Homo sapiens: one gene and its partners. The protein of the gene in region 6 interacts with the protein of the main gene of each other region in a pairwise test. Each region holds a gene or a part of one and is shown on either strand. Other genes may lie near its edges. The genes, in order: ZDHHC17, CHAT, STIP1, RIN3, COQ8A and SPRY4.

Region 1 (3,500 bases), on a different chromosome or scaffold from region 6:
CACAAGGTTTAAATTTGCTTCTGGATTTTTTTCCTTTGGTTCCTTTATTAGTATATAAATAAACAACTTTAAAAAAATGATATACTAAAATGAATAGGAGAGCTTATTATGCCGTTAGTTAATATCATAAATATGCTGATGTTTTATTGTGAAATATTACCTGTAAAGAAGCAAAAGTTTATTGTCCAAAGTTTCCCTGGCCATGCTGATATTAATTCAGTTAGTTATAAGATTGGATTAAACTTTGGATTTCTAAACGTAATATTTTTGCAGCCTGTATATATTTACAATGAAAGAATTAGCTCATTTCTTGGGATGATTGAGATAATATTAGAATGGACATAATAGAATATAGTAATTATTTACTATATATTTAAATAAGTTATGAGTACTTCCATACATTTTCAGACTGTTAATCTAGTTAAGACTTCTAAGAACCATAAAATCCTAAATGTATTTTGACATGTATCTATTTTAAAATAACTTTTCAAAATACATACGTAATCTTCCCACCATACCTTACTTGAAAAAGCTCTTCCCAGAGGATCCTGTTTGAAATAACTTTATATATCTAAGTGTTTATTCTTTTATGTTTTAGACAAGGCCATCTATCCATGGTTGTGCAACTAATGAAATATGGTGCAGATCCTTCATTAATTGATGGAGAAGGATGTAGCTGTATTCATCTGGCTGCTCAGTTCGGACATACCTCAATTGTTGCTTATCTCATAGCAAAAGGACAGGTAAAAAAAATCTCAGTGGTATGGATTTTAATCAGATGTTCTTCATAGTTTAAATGCCTAATATTATTGGTGTTGTAACAAGCCGTTGATATTTAAATAGCACTTTCTGATGGGTGAAGAACATAAATATAGTGAGTTTGATATGGAGATATTTAATGTACCTAACATAAAAGCCAGCATGAAAATCATGAACCAGATAATGATGAAGTTGGGTTTTTTATTTCTAAGAGTAATGGAGATAAAGCTCAGAAATTAAGAGAGAAAATATAAGTATCTATTTTTTCTTTATGTATTTTGAATATATCATCTGAATTCATCCAAACTTTTTTGAACTTATTTATTGGTTATTTTATATATTAAATATCTCTTGAGAGGGATACATTTTTTAAGATCAGTTTCTGCTGTATAAGATAATGCTGCTTCTTACTTGTCAGAAAAACATCATATTTTAAGTGGTTGTTCCTGATTTTTCTTGAGTGTGCAGTGACCATAATCACATTAAATATTACCAGTTTATATAATCATGTTTTTGTAATAAACGTATTTTGTTAAAAGTAATGTCACCCAGTTTTTCTTTAGTGTGTTTTTTCTGGTTATATTTGAACATTAATTTTATAAGTAAGGATCTCATCACAAGAATAACTTTAAGATATATGTATTTAATTTGTTGCTATCAACATGTATTTATTGTTAATTTAAAATTCTATGCGGATTTAGAATTTGAATACTATTTCTTTTAATGAAGGTTTTACAGTATTTGTTGTTGGCAGTCTCAAGCAGTGGCAGTTGTGTTGTGCATTATAGTTTAGGAAAAGAGGCATAGACTGATAAAGTTAATTGCTGGAAGGGGAGGGGGGGTTATTGTCTGTTACTGTGTTAAAAAACTACTGCCAAAATCTAATGGCTTAAGAACAATACCAACCAATTAATACGTCTCACAATTTTGTGGGCTTGGCTGGATGGTTTTTCTCCTTGGCTGGTGGCTGCAGTTGTCTGGCGGCTTGACTGAGCTGGAAGATTGGCTCACATATCTTGTGACTTGATAGGAATGGCTACAAACTGCTTAACTGGGAGGCTGGGGCAGCGAGGCCTCTTTCTTTCTCTATGTAGTGTCAGAACTTCTACTTTTCAATACCAGTCCATGTGGTCTTTCCAGCAGGAGAACTAGACTTCTTACATATTGGCTTAGAGCTCCCAAAAGAACAAAAGTAGAAGCTGTTTTGCATTTTTAAGTCTTAGGTCTTGAACTGACACAGCAACGTTTTTTCTCCATTCTATCAGTTAAAGTGAGTTAACAAGGGCCATAACCACCCGGAGGGAAGGGACCACACAAGGGTGTGAATACCAAGAGGCCAGGTTTATGGGGGGTCATCTGGAGAGCAACTGCTATAGGAGATTATTCTTGTTATTCTGCAGTTTTTTTCTAGAACAAACGTTGAAGCAGTAAATGGTGCTATAGCACATCACAAGGTCTTTAGTGGCCTTCCATATTGCAGAATAAATCTACAATACACATTCACTTTTTTACTTTCAGTTTTTAACTGGGAAAGAAAGGTGGTGTACATTTTTGAGTCTTCATGGTCTTTTTTTTAACTTATTGATTTTGGAGTTTGGATTATTTCATTAATCTTTTTAACCTCTGGTATAGTATATAGGCTATAAAATTCTCAAAGGGCAGGATTTCTACCTGTCAGTGCTTTTGGTACAAAAAGGGCATGATGATGATAATGATGATGATAAATGTCTGAGAAATAGTTTTTTTTTTCCATGAGTAAATTTTTTTTCTGCACACAAAGATAATAAATGTTTATTATGAAATATTCAGGCATAATAGAATATGACTTAGAAAATGAAATCTCACCTCTCCCCTTGGCCATCTGCTGACTGAGGTTACTTCCTTTAATAATGTAGTATGTATTTTAAGAGATTTTATTCCATGTACAGATTAAGCATCTGTAATCTGAAAATCCGGAATGCTGCGAAATCCAAAACGTTTTGAGTGTCAACATGATGCCACAAGTGGAAAATTTTACCCCTGACACCTTTGCTTTCCAATATAGTTCGTTGTACACACACTTTGTTTCATGTACAAAATTATTTAAAATATTGAATAAAATTGCCTTCAGGCTGTATGTATAAGGTGTATATGAAAGATGAATGAATTCCACATTTAGATTTTGGTCCCATTCTCAAGATTTTATTACATATATGCAAATATTTCAACATAGGAAAAACATACACATATTCAAACACTTCTGGTCCCAAGCATTTTACATAAAGGATACTCAACATGTATACACTAATATATTGTAAAAGACACTCTTCCAATGTGCATTGCATCATACTGTGAGGGCCCAGAGTTTTTCTCTGTGCTAGAGCACTGTGCCGTTTAACCCCTGGATACCTTTGAGCTCCACTTCTGCCATCTCCCCATCATCACTCTGCTTTAACTGCACTAGTTTTTTTTTGCTACTTTTTCAGCAACTCTGACATGCTGTTGTCTAAGGGCCTTTTGGTTGCTGTTTCTTCTGCTGGTATATTCTTTCCTCAGATAGTCACACAGTTTCTCTCTCTCTCTTCAGTCAGATGGTTGCTCAAATTTTATTAGTTCTGATTACATAGTTCCTAATTATAAGCAGTAATAAAATTAGCATATTTTTATTTCTTCTTCCCTTTCTCTTTTATCGACTGTAGTCAATAATATTGTTTTTCTTAATGTTAACTATGTTCTGATAAATTTTTACTACATTTTTATTA
Region 2 (3,500 bases), on a different chromosome or scaffold from region 6:
TAGCAAAGGAAATTTCACAACACTAAACATGAAGAGAAGATTCTAAAATCTATCAGAGGATAAAAAAATCAAATACAAAGATCCATAAAAAAGATGTAATTAATTTCTGAACAGCATCATTGGAAGGTGGAAGATAAAAAGAGTAGTGTCTTCAAATTCTGAGAGAAAGTGACCTTCAACACACATTTCATACCCAGCTAAACTGTCATCAAGTTTGAAGATGCATCAAAGATATTTTTAGACAGAGAAAGTCTCAAACATTTTACTTATTAAGCACCATTTCTCATAAAGCTACTGGAGAATGTAGACTTCTAAAGTGAGAAAATAAAACATAAAAGAGGAAATCATAGGCTGAAAAAAAACAGAAGATTTAACACAAGAAAAAGATAGAGGGGTGCCCGCAGGATGACAGTAAAAGGAGATCACAAATCAACAGTTGTTGAGTACACCTAGAGAGCAATCAGTCCATAAAGAAGCAAGAAGTGAGAGGACAAATGAAATTCTTGCTGCATGTTTAGGAATCAGTTAGAAACAGATACATGGGGCCTGGCACAGTGGCTCATGCCTGTAATCCTAGCACCTTGGGAGGCCGAGGTGGGTGGATCACCTGAGGTCAGGAATTCAAGACCAGCCTGGCCAACATGGCAAAACCCCATCTCTACTAAAAATACAAAAAATAGCCAGGTGTGGTGGCACATACCTGTAATCCCAGCTACTAAGGAGGCTGAGGCAGGAGAATCACATGAACCCAGGGGGTGGAAGTTGCAGTCAGCCGAGATCACGCCACTTCACTCCAGCCTGGGTGAAAGAGCAAAACTCCATCTCAAAAGTAAATAAATAAATAAATAAAATAGATACATGGAAAGCTAAGGAAGTAAAAAAGTAATTTATACATTGTCAATTCTAGGGAAAACAAAAAATTCAATAAGAAAGGAAATCTAATCATAGTACACTACATGACCCAGCTGTGAATACTTGCTTAATTATACTTATGTATATCGTTCTGTATACATGATTATGCTGTATCTTGATCAAACTACAAAGAGTTAAAACATAATCTTATTGGGAAGATGGGAGAGTAGAAGTGTGCTGGGGGAGCAGGGTCATAAAAGAGCTGAAATTGGCCGGGTGCAGTGGCTCACGCCTGTAATCCCAGCACTTTGGGAGGCTGAGGCAGGTGGATCACAAGGTCAGGAGATCGAGACCATCCTGGCTGACACGGTGAAACCCCATCTCTATTAAAAATACAAAACAATTAGCCAGGTGTGGTGGCGGGGTGCCCGTAGTCCCAGCTACTCAGAAAGCTGAGGCAGGAGAATGGCATGAACCCAGGAGGCAGAGGTTGCAGTGAGCTGAGATCGCGCCACTGCACTCCAGCCTAGACGACAGAGTGAGACTCCATCTCAGAAAAAAAAAAAAAGAGCTGAAATTTCACTGTCTATAACAAGAAGATTATAGGTAAAACTGAGAAATTCAGTAGTGGTAACCTAAGCATATGTTTGGAGGAAAGAAAGTATATACCCAAAAGAAATAGCTAAAAGACTGTAAGGAATTACCTTTGTGGGGTAGGAATCCGTGCTGGCAAAATGACCTAGGCTTTTGGTTTATTTGGATTTCTAAACGATATAAATATATGACAATAACAACTTTAAATTTATTAAAATGTCTAGGAAAACACCCTCCAAAGCATTGCCATAGGGTTGTGTTAATAATTTTAAGTTGATGAGAACAACCAAATCAAAGAGATGGGTTTGGGGAAAGGAGAGATACAAAGATGCTTAGGATGTGAATCTGGTGTGTGGTTGGACATGGAGGGTAAGGAAAGGGGGAAAGAAGCAAGGAAACCTAATAACTGGTAAGCATATTTGCCAGTGGTCGTGGAGAAATAAAGTTCCAATGGCAAGGTGGTCCAGAGCCCCCATCACTTACTCTCCCACTTCTATGTTTTCCCTTCCTCACACTTGAGTTTATGATCATGTTTTTTTGCATGGTTGATGAAATCTGTCCCCCACTACACCATAAGCTCCACAAGGACTGAGTCTACAACTGTCTTGTTCTCTGTTGTGGCTACAGGACCCGCGGCACCAGGCATATAGTAGGCACTCAATTAAGATTCCCTAAATGAATGAATGAAAGACTGAATTATAAGTCATTTTACTCGTTATTACTCATGGCTCTGAGCCAAACAACCTGTGAACTCAGTCTCTCTTGCTACAGTTATTCCAAGGTGGTGAAAAGAGGGGTGAGTTGACTGTTCACAGGGAAGCTGCTTCTATGGACCAACACAAATCAGGAATTAAATAGAGGAAACCAGAGAAATTAAAAGAGTAGTCTCCTTCATAGATGGGCTCACCGTTCTTTCCTTCGGTCCTAACAGGTAGGGCACGTCTAAAGTGAGCTGTGGTTGTGTAATGTTTGTCTTTTCAGCCTCTAATTAGGTGCGTTCAGAGAGACCAGAGCCTGAGTCATCTTTATGCATTCATTCGCAACTGAAAGAGAACAGCTGTCAAATCCCTAAACGTGCCTTGTAAACCTATACCAAGTTCATTGTGAATGGGAAGTTTCCTCCTGTGCAGGGCTTTGACAGCTAACTGGCCATCCTACAGAACTGTGAAACCCCAAGAGTTACTCACAGTTACCCTGATGTTGACCCAAAAGTGATTACTATGGGTCAGGGTGGCCCCCTGAGTCTCCATCAGCCCCTAGAATTGCTCCAAATAAACATGCAGTCCAAAAAACCAGTGTGCATACTACATACCCAGCCTCAAGTGGGGGAGCTGTAGAATGAGTACCCGGCCCCACTTCCAGACACCTCACCCTCCGTGAACCCCTCCTACATTGACATCCTGGAGCTTTCTCTATATTTCTATCCTTTGATAAAAGTTTAAATATCTTGTGATAAAAAGAAAAAGAACTTTTATTATTCAACAGGCTCTTTCCCCTTGAAAATGTCAGTTGAGCCTGCTAAGGGGTCTAGTTCCTGTCTCAAAACGATTTCTTAGATTATGGATCCAGTTTAAATGAATTGATCCTGAGCCATGAAATAGCAGCCAAGATTCAGTAACAGATCTCACACCCTCTATCCTCTATCTCTTGTTCCCTGGGCTCCTACTGGAGGAGACAGCGCTGGTTGTGGTGGGAGTCTGTTCAGGACAGCCTGGGACGCCCTTCACAATGCTTGCACAGGATCCGGTAGTCTCCAAGCTCTGCACACAGCCTTCTTCCCAAACTCTCTCCCTGCCCAAGCAGTTGGTAGTTGAGAAGACCAGGCCAGCCCCATTCTTTCCACTTAGAGAACCAGGCGGATATAGTTGTGTAGGGGATGCTCAGACTCACTAACCTTTAGCTCAGATGTCTCAAGCTAGAACCCAACCTGCTCTGGACTCATTCAGTGCATGTGGAAATGCGCAAGGGCCCGGGAGCAGAGGCCGCATGGTAGAGCGGTCAGTCCTGAGCAGCCACTCATACACATTGTTGGCAGCAGGCACTGGGTAAGCATG
Region 3 (3,500 bases), on a different chromosome or scaffold from region 6:
GCCCACCTTGGCCTCCAAAAGTGCTGGGATTATAGGCATGAGCCACCGTGCCTGGCCTGAAGCTGATTTTTTAACATGCTGGCCATTCTAATGAATAATAGCCATAAGCTTAGCGCATACTAAAGCACTCAAAATAGTTTTAGGTGGGCACAGTGGCTCGTGACTGTAATCCTAGCTGAAGCAGGAGCATCGCTTGAGGCCAGAAGTTCAAGACCAACCTGGGAAACACAGCAAGACTCCGTCTCTAAAAAAACCATAATAATCATGGTCAATCAAGGTCAACAGATGTCCCCATTCAACATAAAGATTTCTAGTTGTTTATAGATAGGTGACAGTGAGGAGAGAAAAAAACAAGACCTGCTTCTTATTCTCTGGAAGATCTTCTTCCATTGGCTCTGGCTTGGTCTCCTTTTTGGGAGGGGGTGGTGGTGGAGGTGTTGCAATCTCTTCCTCCTCATCCATACTGCCCAGATCGACCCCAAGGAGGACGCTGAGAGTGGTCATGATCCGGGGATCTTGTAGTTTCCTAGTATTGATTTAAAAAAATAAAGAAAAATTGTAATTACTCCTCCCCACAATTAGTCTTTTAACTCCCACTTACTACTAAAGTCAGATTCTTGTGTTTAGAAGCTCCTCACCCATCAAAAGATGGCTAGATTTTGCACCACTCATGAGTTACAATTGAGAAATACTCAAACCGTCAAAACACTATCTAAAATAGAGTCAACAAAAACAAATAAAATGAAGTCACAGATAGCGGAGCACGGTGGCTCACACCTGTAATCCCAGCACTTTGGGAGGCCGAGGCGGGCAGACCACTTGAGGTCAGGAGTTTGAGACCAGCCTAGCCAACATGGTGAAACCCACCGCTACTACTAAACATACAAAAATTAGCTGGGCGTGGTGGCGTACACCTGTAATCCCAGCTACTCAGGAGGCTGAGGCAGGAGAATCGCTTGAACCCAGGAGGTGGAAGTTGCAGCGAACTGAGATCACACCACTGCACTCCAGCCTAGGGGACAGAGCGAGACTCCATCTTGAAAAAATAAAATAAAATAAAATAAAATAAAATGAAGTCACAGAGGTCAAGTTTATTCCTCAAGGTTAGCAGATACACAGAGGAATGAGTTGTTTTAGGTATACTTCCGTAGCTGATCTCAGGAGCCAGAGGATTGATAGAGATGAATACCAGTACAAGATTTAGACACATCTTTACACATGAACTTCAACCCTGTTTCCACTCTGATATACCAACAGAGAAAGTAGGGCCTAAGTAGATGGAAAGGATGGGGTTGACGCTAGATCAGAGTTCTAGAAGAGCAGGAGAGAGGTGTATACAGATGACAAAGAACATTCTAGATTACTGTGAAATATGCTCCCCTGACCCTTTCTATAATTACAAATAAACGACCACCACCTACTGCTCTGCAGAGAATAAGCAAAGGCAAAAACTCTGCAGTTTAGACCAGGGAACCCTCTGCTGTGAGGTTACAGGAAGAAAGCATAACATTCCCCGATTTCCAGAACCTCAGTGAGCGGCGTCCACTTACGTGCCCAGGTCAGAAGGCTTGTTTCGTAGCTGCTCTATCAGCTCCCGGTAGGTAGGATCACTGAGTAGTGTCCTTGTCCTGGGATCACTCTCCAACTTCTGATACAGATTAGGCATGTTGAAAGGGTTCATGAATTTTCTCTCTGTCCAAATAAAGGAAAGCACATCACTATGAAATGAGTTCACTAGAATTACTGTGTCCCATACCCTACCAGACTGACATTTCTCAGGGGTGAAGACTCAAAATTAATCACATTAATAATAAGAAAGAAAACTGTGCGTGGTACCTACCTGCCAACCTGGCCTCCATATTCTGTAAACCCTCTTTCAGTTGAGGGTTATTTGCCTCGTGTTTTAAGCCCTCCTCATAGGTTCGCTTGGCTTCTTCAAAGCGGTTTAAGAACTCTAGAGCTGCTGCTTTTCGTGAATAGCCCTTAAACCACCAAAGACAGACACAAAATAGAGAACACCCAGAGGTAAATCTAGAAGACGAACTCAAAAAAGAACAATTCTACTTTTATGGGGGAAAAATGAGTATTCACATGAAGGCCAAAGAGAAAAAAAGGAGAGGAGTAGGCTACGAGGCCAAGGCTGCTACTGTAAGGATCCATCCAAATAGCAGAGGCACATCCGCCCCGCCTTGTTCACCTCTGATCGACTGTGGTCAGTTTCTTTGGCAACACTTTTTCCCTTATTTTTTTGGTAAAGACAGGGACTCCTTATGTTACCCAGGCTGGTCCCAAACCTTTGGGCTCCAGTAATCCTCCTGCCTCAACCTCCCAAAGTGCTGGGATTATAGGCGTGAGCCACTGTACCGGGCCTCTTCCTTTTTTTTTGAGACAGGGTCTTGCCGTGTCACCTGGGCTGGATGCAGTGGCACGATTTCAGCTCACTGCAACCTCCGCTTGCCAGGCTCAGGTGATCCTCCTGCCTTAGTCTCCTGAGTAGATGGGACTACAAGCACATGCCACCATGCCTGGCTAAATTTTTTTGCATTTTTAGTACAGACAGGGTTTCACCATGTTGGCCAGGCTGGTCTTGAACTCCTGACCTCAAGTGATCCGCCCACCTCAGCCTCCCAAAGTGTTGGGATCACAGGCGTGCGTCACCGCGCCCAGCCCTGGCCTCTTCCTTCTTAGTACCAAAAATAAAGCCTGTATTACAACTAATGGCTACCTTAGATTTGATGAAAAATGCCATTTCTGAGGAGGATACTCAAACAGGGAGGTGGGTAGGTAACTATCAGTGTATCAGGACAGGTAAACCTCAGGCCACCAAAAGGCATTTCTGGAAGGGTCTGAAGGGCCTCTCTCCCTCCACTGCCCACAGCTGACCTTGCCCCAGTCAGGCTTTAGGTCGACAGTCTTGCAGCCATCCTCATAAGCCTTCTGGTAGTCTCCTTTCTTGGCATAGGCAGCAGAACGGTTGCTGTACAGCACGTGGTTGTGGGGATCCAGCTTAATAGCTTCGGAGTAGCACTGTAAGGCATCATCGATGTTACCCACGCTCAGGGCCTTGTTGCCTTTCTCCTTCAGCTCATTGACCTGAGGGGAAAGGAACACACAGCTTCTCTATGATGTGCCCATTTAATCCCAAGCTTTAAAGACAACACTCATTCTTTCATGTAGTTACCAACAAATAAATAGGTGACTTTACAGATCAGAAGAGAGAAAACCGGTTCATTTATTTAATTTCTCACACCTTCCCTAAGGAGCCAGCAAAGAAAAAATAAGCAGGGGCAAAGAGCCCAGGCTGCACTCCACGCTGGCCCCCATGTGACGAACGAGGGCTCTGCCACTCTTCCGGTCTCCACATGGAGCTCACGAAGCCACTCCAGAATGTGCCACATGCTCCTTCCATGGAAAAGTCAATTCATTTGCCACAGATTTCCAAAGCATCCAAATGACAAACAGAGCACAGCCCTAGTCACCCCTCACAGGAAGAAGGTGGG
Region 4 (3,929 bases), on a different chromosome or scaffold from region 6:
CTCCTGTGCATCAGAGCCTCTGTTAGGATCTGGAAAGGGCTAGGTCTCCTAGCTAAGTGCCAGTCAGGACCTCCAGGGAACATTAGCTCCTTGAATCCAGGAAGCCAAGGTCAAGGGACAGAGCTGGAGCTACGAGCTCACACCCTGAATCCATCACTGGCCCTGCTGTAGGTGGGCCCCACCCAGAAGAGCCCCCTGTCTCAGCCTGGAGTGGTTAAGGGGCTCCTCTTCAGGGCTCCAGCAGGACCCCTGTATTAGATCAGGCCAAGGCTCAGGAGACATGAGTTCCACCACCACCTCCCCCAATACCAGGGAACCCATTTCCCCTTTCTGGGTTTCTGGTTCCTCATTGTTAAATTAGGGGATTGATTAGGTCAATGACAGCCACATTTTTTCCAGCAGTGGAATCCTTTTCCAAATGAAATCTTAAGCAGACCTTTAATATAGCAAAAATGTGAAAAGGTGACTGGTCTAGTTGCTATGGTGGGGCTGCATGGGGGTGCCTGCTAGGTCTCTCCCTACCCCCTGAAAGCTACTGGCCTGAGTGGACTCTGAGAACCCACTCTCAGCAGACTCCGCACAGTTCGGCATCTGTCCCTGATGCACTGGACCCTGGGCAGACAGAGCCCAACCAGAGTCATCCTCCACTCCTCTCTCCCTCCAATCCATCAGCAAATCCTCTACCCTTCAAAGTCCTTCCAACCCAAAAGGTCCTCCAAAACAAAGCCATGTTTTAGCAACAAACCAATATTCATACAGTGCTAGAATGTACCAAGCACAGTTCTAAGCAGGCCTGAACGGATGTTTCCCCTAAGCTGCCTGGGGGCAGCTACTTAGCTATGAACTCAGCCAATCCACGAAACAATTCTATGTGGTGTGTGTTGCTAGCACCCCCAGTTTACAGGTGAGGCAGGGGCCGGGTCATTTGTCTAAGGTTACACATTTGGCAAATGGAGGGATCATACCCAACAAATGATAATAATGGTGATAATTATGATTAAGGGTTTACCATATAGTCTAATGTATTCAACTCTGTGTATTTAGTCCTCAAAACAACTCTAAGGGGTAGTTACTATTATTTATCATTTTATTGATAAGTGAACTGAGATACAGAGAGTTTAAATAACCGACCCAGTAATGAACAAAAAAAGACAAGAGGAAGTGGATCACACTAGGTCATCTCTGGGGAAAATGAGAAGCCGGTGAGGCCAGCGCCCTGGCCCCTCACCTCCCCTTCCTCCCTGAGAAACTCCTCTCCGGCTTCACCCTGCCATCTTGGGTGTGGCAGATACTTGCAAGTGGGTGTGAGGGTTGGGGGGCTCTTCCCCAACGGATTCCCAGTTCTTCCCACCGGATGGTATTTGTCTTTGCAGAGGTCGCTTTCGAGAGAAAGAAACCAGCATCCAGAATTTCCGGGCTGGCAGGATGGAGGGAGAAGAAGGGAAGGGAGACGTTCAGATCTAGATGAGCTTAAGGCCCCCTCCCAGTCCCTCCCAGCTGAGTGAGAGCCAGTCACCTCCAGCTGTCCCCCAGTTCAGGACTGCACAAGATGGGCCCAACTCTCCTGTTTCACAGAGCAGAGAACTGAGGGCCTGGGAGATGAGGTCCCACTGCCAAGCCAGGGAGCGGCAGGGTGTCCATCAGAGAAGTAGGCCCGGGACTTTTAAACCAAAAAGCTGGGAATGGCCTCCCCAGACGCGCTCCTGGGTACCCAGAAATAGGCTTTCCCCGGGAATCCGCCTCCGACCGGGCGTCTCTACAACACCTGAAGCTTCTCAGGACGCCCTCTGAGCTGGGCAAGGCGAGAGGACTTTCTCCCAGAGCCCAGCCCCGAGCAATGCCCGAGCTCGCGAGGTGGGGCTGGGGGCGACAAGGAGGCGGAGCGGGGACTTAGCCACCGGGGACTCCTCTCCAAGTCAGTTCCCAAACCATTCGGCGTCATGCATCCACAGCCCGCGCGCAGCCCGTGCGCCCTGGACCCTACCCAAGCACTAGGCTCGACCAGGGCCGGTCCGAAGGTCACCGTCTACGGCCAGGGCAGAGGGGCGGCGGGAAAAGGGCCCAGTGGACCCTCGGTCCAGGAGGGCCGGTCAGCTGTTGGGCCGCGGGCACCCAAAGTTGCGGGGGTCCGGGTCTCCGACCCCACGCCCAGCGGGGCTCTAGTACCCGAGGGCGCGCGCTGCGACTCGCAGAGCAGCGGGTGCAGCAGGCTGGCGGGGCTGGGACCGCGAGTTTTGTTTGCAAAGTTCAGGCGGGGCAGACGCCAGGGAGGGGGCCGCGTCCACGCGGGCAGCCCCGGCGCTGACAGGTAGCGACGCACTCCCTCGTAATCCGTCCACCAGCAGCCTAAAGTGTGCACTGGGTTCCCAGTGAAATGCCTGGCCTTGAAAGTTTAGCCAACATCGGGTCCAGCGGAGTCACCAGGGCCGCCCCCTGCCCCGCAGAACCAGGTTCTGGCCTCGGCCACGGTGGGGGTCCCGTATCAGCCCGACAACCCCGAGGTCACGCGCCCGAAGGACTCTCTGGGACAAGAAGTGGAGTGGGGCGGCCAGGACGCGGGCCGTGGGGATCGCGAGGGAGGAGGGGGCGGCCGCCCGGACTTACCCCGTGGGGTCCCCGCGCGCGGGCGCCCCGGCGTGTCGGATCATGCCGCCGGCAGCTCCGGGACGGGGAACGGAGGCGCTCAGGCGCCGGGCCGCGCGGAACGCGGAGTCCCGGGCGCCCGCATGTCCCTGGCTCTGGCCCTCTGGAAGGGCCAGGCCGCCGCTGCCGCCGCGCTCTGGGGCTCTCGCTCCCTTCTACTTCCTGTATCGGAGCGAGCGGGGCTTTCAGGAAGAGGCTGGCCTTGGTGGTCAAGGGTTTTTTTGTCAAAAGCCATTCGGCAGCGGCTCGCGGCCCGGAGCCCCCTGGGGCACACGGAGGCCCGGGCGGCCGCGCCCCCGGGGCCGGGCCTCGGGGCGGGGGGTGCTGGGGCCAAGGCGCCGCACGGGCGCCCAACCTCGGGGTGCCGCCTCCACAGGCTGTGGCTGGGGCTGGGGCGCGGGAGGCCCGCGGGGCTTCGGAGAGGGAAACTTAGAGAAAAGTCTTCCACTTGGCTTGGGGCCGCAGGGGAAGGAAGACGCCCTCCGCCTGTGCCGGCGCCGACCGCGGGCCGGCAGGTGGGGAGGCCCAGAGCTGGCGGGGAGTTCGTCCCACTCGGAGCCACAGCCTTGCCCGAGGGAGCCTCGAAATCGTTCAAGGGCAACCTCAGACCAGAGCCAGGGCGCCTCCTCCACATTCCTGACAGATGTGCACGCCGCCTCCTCTTGGATGCTTCCCGTGACAAGGAGCTCACTCCTCAACAAGGCGGACTGCTCGTCCATCAAGCCTGGCATCTAATTCACCTGTGCCGGGTACCGCAGATGGAGAACGCCAGACAGCTGACACAAATGCAAGACCCACAGCAACCCCAGGTGGGACCGTGAGGCCTCTTCTAAGTGCCTGGGTGTTCAAAAATGCCTCCCGAGCCCAGTGTTTTCCCAGAGCATTTCCCAGAGTGACTGAGCAGGACTGGACCCTATTAGGTCACCTCAGTCTCATGCAGGATTTCTTTACCTGGCCGCTACTGCCATTTGGGGCCGGCTAATGCTTTGTTATTGGGGCTAATGCTTTGTTATTGGGGCCAGCTAATGCTTTGTTATTAAACCTCCTTCAAAACTGCAGGAGGTTTAACGGTATCCATGGCCTCTCCATGATTCATAAAATACCCATAGCATCAGCCTCTCTCTGTAACGACCAGAAATGTCTCTAGATATCACAAGTGTCCTCCGGGGGCAAAATCGTCGAGGTCTAATACCATCATTTTAGAGATAAGGAAACTGAGGCCTAGAGAGTGGAGGTGACTTGCTCAAGGCCATATGGCAAGTGAGGACCAGACAGGACTGAGCCCA
Region 5 (3,500 bases), on a different chromosome or scaffold from region 6:
CTGTGGGTGTCTGTGTGCTGGAGGATTGCCCACAGCTATGATTCAGAGATGCTCATGTTGTTGCCCAAGCAATTGACAGATGATGTTTCAGGCTTGGAGATGGCAGGATGGGAGCAAAGAGAAGCCAGGTCAGGAAAGAACGTGCCGTTCTGGCCCTAGTGGGGAATTCTGGGCCTTCTGGCTCACCCAGTTGAACCTTTCAAACTGTAGGTTATGACCCTTTAGTAACTGTGAAATTAATTTAATGCATCAGGATCAGCATATAAAAAACAAGTTAACTGTAATCTCAGCACTTTGGGAGGCCGAGGTGGGAGAATCACCTGAGGTCAGGAGTTTGAGACCAGCCTGGCCAACATGGTGAAACCCCAATTCCTACTAAAAAAATACAAAAATTAGCTAGGTGTGGTGGCATGTGACTGTAATCCCAGCTACTCGGGAGGCTGAGGCACAAGAATTGCTTGAGCCCAGGAGGGAGAGGTTGCAGTGAGCTGAGATTGCGCCACTGCACTCCAGTGGGGGCGACAGAGTGAGACTCTGTCTCAAAAAACAAGTTAAACAGAATGGAATTCAATAGAAAAGATTAGAATTAATATCGTACATCCTTACAATGAACTATACACATGGCAAGATATTTTAGTTTCAGAGACATACATACTATTTAAGTATGTTCTTCACTACAATGTGAAATATATAGCTTACTGGTGGGTCATCATCCAAACAGTTTGTAGTTGCACTGTTGCGCTTTGTTCTCCTAGAAAATACCTCTAGCCTTTCTTCCCTTCATGGAGGAAAGGTGTTTTTCAGGTGCAGACTGACAGACTTTAGGAAGTTTTTACACGGGGTTATGAAGGAAAGGGATTGCTCTAGGTCTCAGGGAGGTAGGGCTGCTGCAGGGACCCAGACGGGTTTTCAGCGAGGTTGGCAGTAGGTATTCAGCTATATAGAAGTGGAAGTCAAGGACTTTCCAATTCCAGGGGCTCATTTTGATGCTGAAATGGGGGCGGGGCATGAGTCCTAAGTCCAATTTGGCTATGGGACATTATGACTGTGATGCTATGGGCAGGATGATCTGTGGATATTAGATTTTCTTAAAGAGTGGTGTGAAAGAAAGGGTCATATATTGGATATGGGGTCAGAACTGAACTTTAGTTCATCATAATAGCTGTCCTTTGATTACAACTGTGCTTCCAGTGTGACCTTGGGCTCTACCGTGGTTTTCTCTTTTGTAAAATAAGGGTCTTGCCGTTGATTCCAAATGGGAATATTTTGGTAAATGTTCCATGTTTACCTGAAAATAATTCATGTTGAGTGCAGTGATCCGTCTATCTAGTCTGGTTTATTATTCATATTGATCAGATTTTTAAGTGATTTTGGTTTGCTTATTCAATAAGCTATCGAGAGAGGCATTAAAAAGTCTGCTATGATTGTGGATTTACCTACTTTTAGTCTATTGACTTGTGCTTTATATGGTTTGAAGCTATGTTATTTGTTGCCTACAGATTCAGAATTCTTTTTTTTTGTTTGAGACAGAGTCTTGCTCTGTCGCCCAGGCTGGAGTGCAGTGGCACAATCTTGGCTCACTGCAACTTCTGCCTCCTGGGTTCAAGTGATTCTCCTGCCTCAGCCTCCCGAGTAGCTGAGACTACACGTGCGTGATAAGTCTCGATCTCCTGACCTCATGATCCGCCCGCCTCGGCCTCCTAAAGTGCTAGGATTACAGGCGTGAGCCACCGCGCCCGGCCAGATTTAGAATTCTTCTTATATCCTCCTAGGGATTGACCCTTCATTCTTATGTTATGCCTCTTTTCATCTCTGTGAAAGTCCTCATTGTCTGATATTACTATAGCTACATTCCAGCTTTGTTTTGGGTAATGTTTGCATGTTACCTTTTTTTTTTCCCCTGTACTTTCAACTTTTAAAATGTCCTTATGTTTAATGCATATCTATGAGCAGCATATATAGTTGGTTTTTTGTGTGTTTTAAGTGTAGACTGATAATCTTACAATGAGAATATTTAGTCCATTTACATTTAAATGCAATTGTGGATGTATTGGAGTTTATATCTACTACCTTAGTTTTTGTTTGTTTACTATTTGACCTGTCTGTTATGTCCCCCTTTTTCTCACCTGTTTTGCCTTCTTTTAAATTAATCAAGGACTTAAAATTATAGTCATGCGTCTCTCTTTTTTTTTGGAGACAGTCTCGCTCGGTCACCCAGGCTGGAGTGCAGCGGCGTGATCTCGGCTCACAGCAACCTCAGGCAATTCCCATGCCTCAGCCACTCGAATAGCTGGAATTACAGGTGTGTGCTGCCATGCCCGGCTAATTTTTGTAGTTTTAGCGGAGACAGGGTTTTGCCATGTTGGCCAGGCTGTTCTTGAACTCCTGGCCTCAAGTGATCCACCTGCCTCAACCTTCCAAAGTGCTGGGATTAAAGGCATGAGCCACCGCACCTGGCCCTCATGTGTGTCTTAACAAGGATTCAGTCCGAGAAATGTGTCGTTAGGCAGTTTCATCATTGTGTGAACATCATAGAGTGTACTTACACAAACCTAGATGGTATAGCCTGCTACATGCCTAGGCTGTATGGCATAGCCTGTTGCTCCTAGGCTACAAACCTTTACAACATGTTACTGTACTGAATACAGTAGATAACTGTAATACAACGGTATTTGTGTACCTAAACATAGAAAAGGTATAGTAAAAATATGATACAATCTATCACTGTCGTATATGCAGTCCGTTGACTGAAATGTTACATGATGCGTGACCGTGCATGTTCTCTCTTTGTTAGCTCTTATGTTTTACATTCCTTTACGGTTCTTTTGGTGATCACTCTTGAGATTACAGCACGCATCTTGACTTATTACAATATAAAAATAAGTGATTATTTTTACTACTTCTCCAATGATGCTAATACCTTAGAACACTTTTTAGATATTAAGATATATTAAACACCACAAGAATTATTTCTTTGTACAGCCCATATGAATTTAGATTTACCCACATATTTGCCCTTTTTTGTGTTTCTTTCTTCCTGCATTTCTATAATTTTATTTGGTATAATTTTCTTTTTCTCTGAGGAACTCTCCTCTCTCTTACAGTGTAGTCTGTTAATCATGAATTCTTTTAGTTTTTATTTATTTTTTATTGATTTATTTTTTGAGATGAAGTTTTGCTCTTGTCACCCAGGCTGGAGTGCAATGGCGTGATCTCGACTCACTGCAACCTCTGCCTCCCGGGTTCAGGTGATTCTCCTGCCTCAGCCTCCTGAGTAGCTGGGATTACAGGTGCATGCCACCACACCCAGCTAATTTTTGTATTTTTAGCAGAGATGGGGTTTTGCCATGTTGGCCAGGCTGATCTCGAACTCCTGACCTCAGGTGATCCACCCACCTCTGCCTCCCAAAGTGCTGGGATTACAGGCATGAGCCACCACACCCGACCTAGTTTTTATTTTTTTGAAAATGTCATTATAGCTGGGCACGGTGGCTCATGCC
Region 6 (2,546 bases):
TCCTTCTTGAAGACTAGTAGTAACATCTTATGATTTAGAGTAAGTTGATTGTAACCATAGGTATTTATTGATTGGAGGAAGGGAGGGTCATATTATTTTCGGCTTTATTTATGTAACATTTGCTAGCTTGTAAAAGGCGAATGTGAAATATTGCATCTGCATTTTCCAAGGCTGATTCGTGTAGCTACCCTTGCCACAGTTGTGACGGATGTATGGATGTTCTTGAACATTTCAGAAGGAGTGGTAGAAAAAAACACACATTCAGCCAACCACTTATATGAATTGAATGTATCAGAAGTGTACTGAAGGGACTGGAGATGGTTTTCCTCAGATGAGGGGGCCCCAAAATTGATAGTGCACATCTGCACGCTTTCTGCGAGGCCTCAGAACTTCCCAGGGCCCCTCCCTCAAATTGTCTCCATGGGAAACTTGACCCAGTGGCAAGTTGCACTTTGGTGATCTTGGTGGTCTACACACCCGTTCTGTGGAGAGTCGATTTACATAAGCTGTGTATACACACACACACACACACACACACACCCCTACCCCACACTGACTGTCTACCGACAAAGACCCTATTTCCTGGCAAACGGCCTCCTGAACCCTGACTTTTTGTGTACATACTTGTAAACACGGATTTTTCTGGGTTTTGGTTTGCTTTTTCCTTTTTTCCCCCTGCCCCTGTTCTAGCTTGTTCTTCTTGGTTTGCTTTCAACCTGCTTGATGGATGTCTGCAGAGTGCTCTCTAAGAGTCCACCTCAGTGCCTCGTGTGCTCAGTGGTCATGGGAAAGGAGCGAAGGAACCATCCTTGGTTCTCCCAGCTTGGTTGTGTAGCAATCCCTCAGCATTGTTTTTCTCAGCTTCTTGGCAAAAATTAAAACAACAACAACAACAACAACAACAACAACAAACAGAAGGATAAACTGGCTTGCCTGTGGACCCTCCCCGGCTCTGGGGCCAGTCGAGAGCCACTGAGGGACCCAGCACTCAGAGACACAACACACATGTGTAGCTGCTTCTGGCTGAGTGTGTTTCCTGTCACCAATGGCCTGTTTGGCTGGACGATGCCTCGGCTTGACCTTTTTTGAAAAGTGCTGGTTAGTTCCCGCCCCTGGTAAACCTGGGGTAGGTGGGGGTTCTGTCTTAACTCGAGGGGCACCTGGGATCCAGGACGCTTCTAGGGGGCTCTGGCTGCCCGTGTTAATGAAGGACAGCGCTTCCGCGAGCACCCTGGGAACTGGGTCTTGGGTAGCAAAGCCCTCCCAGAGAAAAGATTGGGCACAACTAAGGCTTTCCTGAGCAGGAAGGGGGTGAAGACCAATCCCTTCCTTTGGTCCTTTGGTACGCACCCCCTCAGAGCTGAGATGGAAGACATGGCTAGTTCTTTTCAGCCTTGTGGAGCCTGTCAGTCGCCATCATACCTCGAGTGAGGCCCAGCTAGATAATGACTTGTCCAAGATGGCACACGTGGAAAGTTGATCTGCACCAGAACCCGGATGACTGTCACCTTGAAGCATCCTGTTCTCCTTCTGTGCTGTCCCAGGAAGTGTCTGGCGGGCGTGGGCAGCACAGCTCTACACTGTACGATTCACTAGGGCATCCTGCGAGCCTCACTAGCCTTCTGGTTCATGCCTTTGACAAGCATTTTTGTGCCCCCTCTGCTTACTGTGACAGTCGATGATGAATCTTGCGTTGCCATTTTCTGCTGTGGGTAACTGCGTGCAGTGTCTTGCCTTGCTTTCTCTTCTTACTGTCCCACAGCTTGGTTTCATGTTACAAACAGAAAAGCTCGAGGCTCCCACCCCGCCACATCCCAACTTCATTTCCCCCTCACTGTAGCCCATTTCCACCCCACCACAAAGTTGCCACAGGTTTTCTTTGTATAGAATATTTATTTTGAAGCTCTATTTTAATAGTATTTATTTTAGAAAGTCTACTATTGTAAGAGTTCTTCTGTTTGTGAAGAAAAAAACAAGTTAAAAACTGAATGTACTGATTTAGAAAATATATATAAATATATATTGTTAAATATACACGGGACTGCCGTTTCTGGTGTGTTTGTGTGTTTACTTCCCTGACCTCTTCAGCCAGCAAGGCCTCAAGTTTGAGAATAAGCAGCCACTGAAAGGGGAAGAGAAGATAGGGCTTCCTGGGCTGGGCAATCCCTTCTCCCAGCTCTAGGACGACCGTAGAACCATCGGAGGAAAGCTGCTCTTCATTATGAAGCGGAATACTGCAAGGAGCTGCTAGAGCCTCCTTCCTGGGAAAGCTGTCCCCTAAACTGGAGTGTGCTGCAGATGGACAGCAAAGCTCCAAAACTGGGAAGAGGTAGAGGGGGAAAAGTGTCATCTGACCTGTCCATTCCTCTCCCTTTATGTCCCGATTGCCCCCAAAGCAGGTTTTCACACACATGAACACACAACATACATGCTTCAAGGAACTAAATAGAAAAGCCCTTGGTCATTTCCGTATTTTCACAGGATTGGTGCATATTGCACAAAACTAGTCCTTTTAGCCTCGAAAGCCTTCCATCCATTTCATGACC

The links.
Region 1: the proteins of SPRY4 (region 6) and ZDHHC17 interact in a two-hybrid assay, tested with the Homo sapiens proteins (one large-scale study listed by BioGRID and IntAct).
Region 2: the proteins of SPRY4 (region 6) and CHAT interact in binary tests that used the Homo sapiens proteins (3 or more experiments, as listed by UniProt).
Region 3: the proteins of SPRY4 (region 6) and STIP1 interact in binary tests that used the Homo sapiens proteins (3 or more experiments, as listed by UniProt).
Region 4: the proteins of SPRY4 (region 6) and RIN3 interact in a two-hybrid assay, tested with the Homo sapiens proteins (one large-scale study listed by BioGRID and IntAct).
Region 5: the proteins of SPRY4 (region 6) and COQ8A interact in binary tests that used the Homo sapiens proteins (3 or more experiments, as listed by UniProt).

Annotation. Positions count from the first base shown.
Region 1 is NC_000012.12:76,809,115-76,812,614, forward strand, and holds part of ZDHHC17 (palmitoyltransferase ZDHHC17), read left to right. Parts: coding exon 1-6; intron 7-598; coding exon 599-743; intron 744-3,500. UniProt on the Homo sapiens protein: Palmitoyltransferase that catalyzes the addition of palmitate onto various protein substrates and is involved in a variety of cellular processes.
Region 2 is NC_000010.11:49,659,037-49,662,536, forward strand, and holds part of CHAT (choline O-acetyltransferase), read left to right. Parts: intron 1-3,500. UniProt on the Homo sapiens protein: Catalyzes the reversible synthesis of acetylcholine (ACh) from acetyl CoA and choline at cholinergic synapses.
Region 3 is NC_000011.10:64,192,671-64,196,170, reverse strand, and holds part of STIP1 (stress-induced-phosphoprotein 1), read right to left. Parts: intron 3,094-3,500; coding exon 2,884-3,093; intron 1,983-2,883; coding exon 1,841-1,982; intron 1,693-1,840; coding exon 1,551-1,692; intron 527-1,550; coding exon 358-526; intron 1-357. UniProt on the Homo sapiens protein: Acts as a co-chaperone for HSP90AA1. Mediates the association of the molecular chaperones HSPA8/HSC70 and HSP90.
Region 4 is NC_000014.9:92,512,652-92,516,580, reverse strand, and holds the start of RIN3 (ras and Rab interactor 3), read right to left. Parts: upstream 2,801-3,929; 5' UTR 2,649-2,800; coding exon 2,605-2,648; intron 2,208-2,604; exon of another isoform or gene 1,985-2,207; intron 1,418-1,984; exon of another isoform or gene 1,070-1,417; intron 1-1,069. UniProt on the Homo sapiens protein: Ras effector protein that functions as a guanine nucleotide exchange (GEF) for RAB5B and RAB31, by exchanging bound GDP for free GTP. Required for normal RAB31 function.
Region 5 is NC_000001.11:226,967,794-226,971,293, forward strand, and holds part of COQ8A (atypical kinase COQ8A, mitochondrial), read left to right. Parts: intron 1-3,500. UniProt on the Homo sapiens protein: Atypical kinase involved in the biosynthesis of coenzyme Q, also named ubiquinone, an essential lipid-soluble electron transporter for aerobic cellular respiration.
Region 6 is NC_000005.10:142,309,930-142,312,475, reverse strand, and holds the end of SPRY4 (protein sprouty homolog 4), read left to right. Parts: 3' UTR 1-2,046; downstream 2,047-2,546. UniProt on the Homo sapiens protein: Suppresses the insulin receptor and EGFR-transduced MAPK signaling pathway, but does not inhibit MAPK activation by a constitutively active mutant Ras. Probably impairs the formation of GTP-Ras.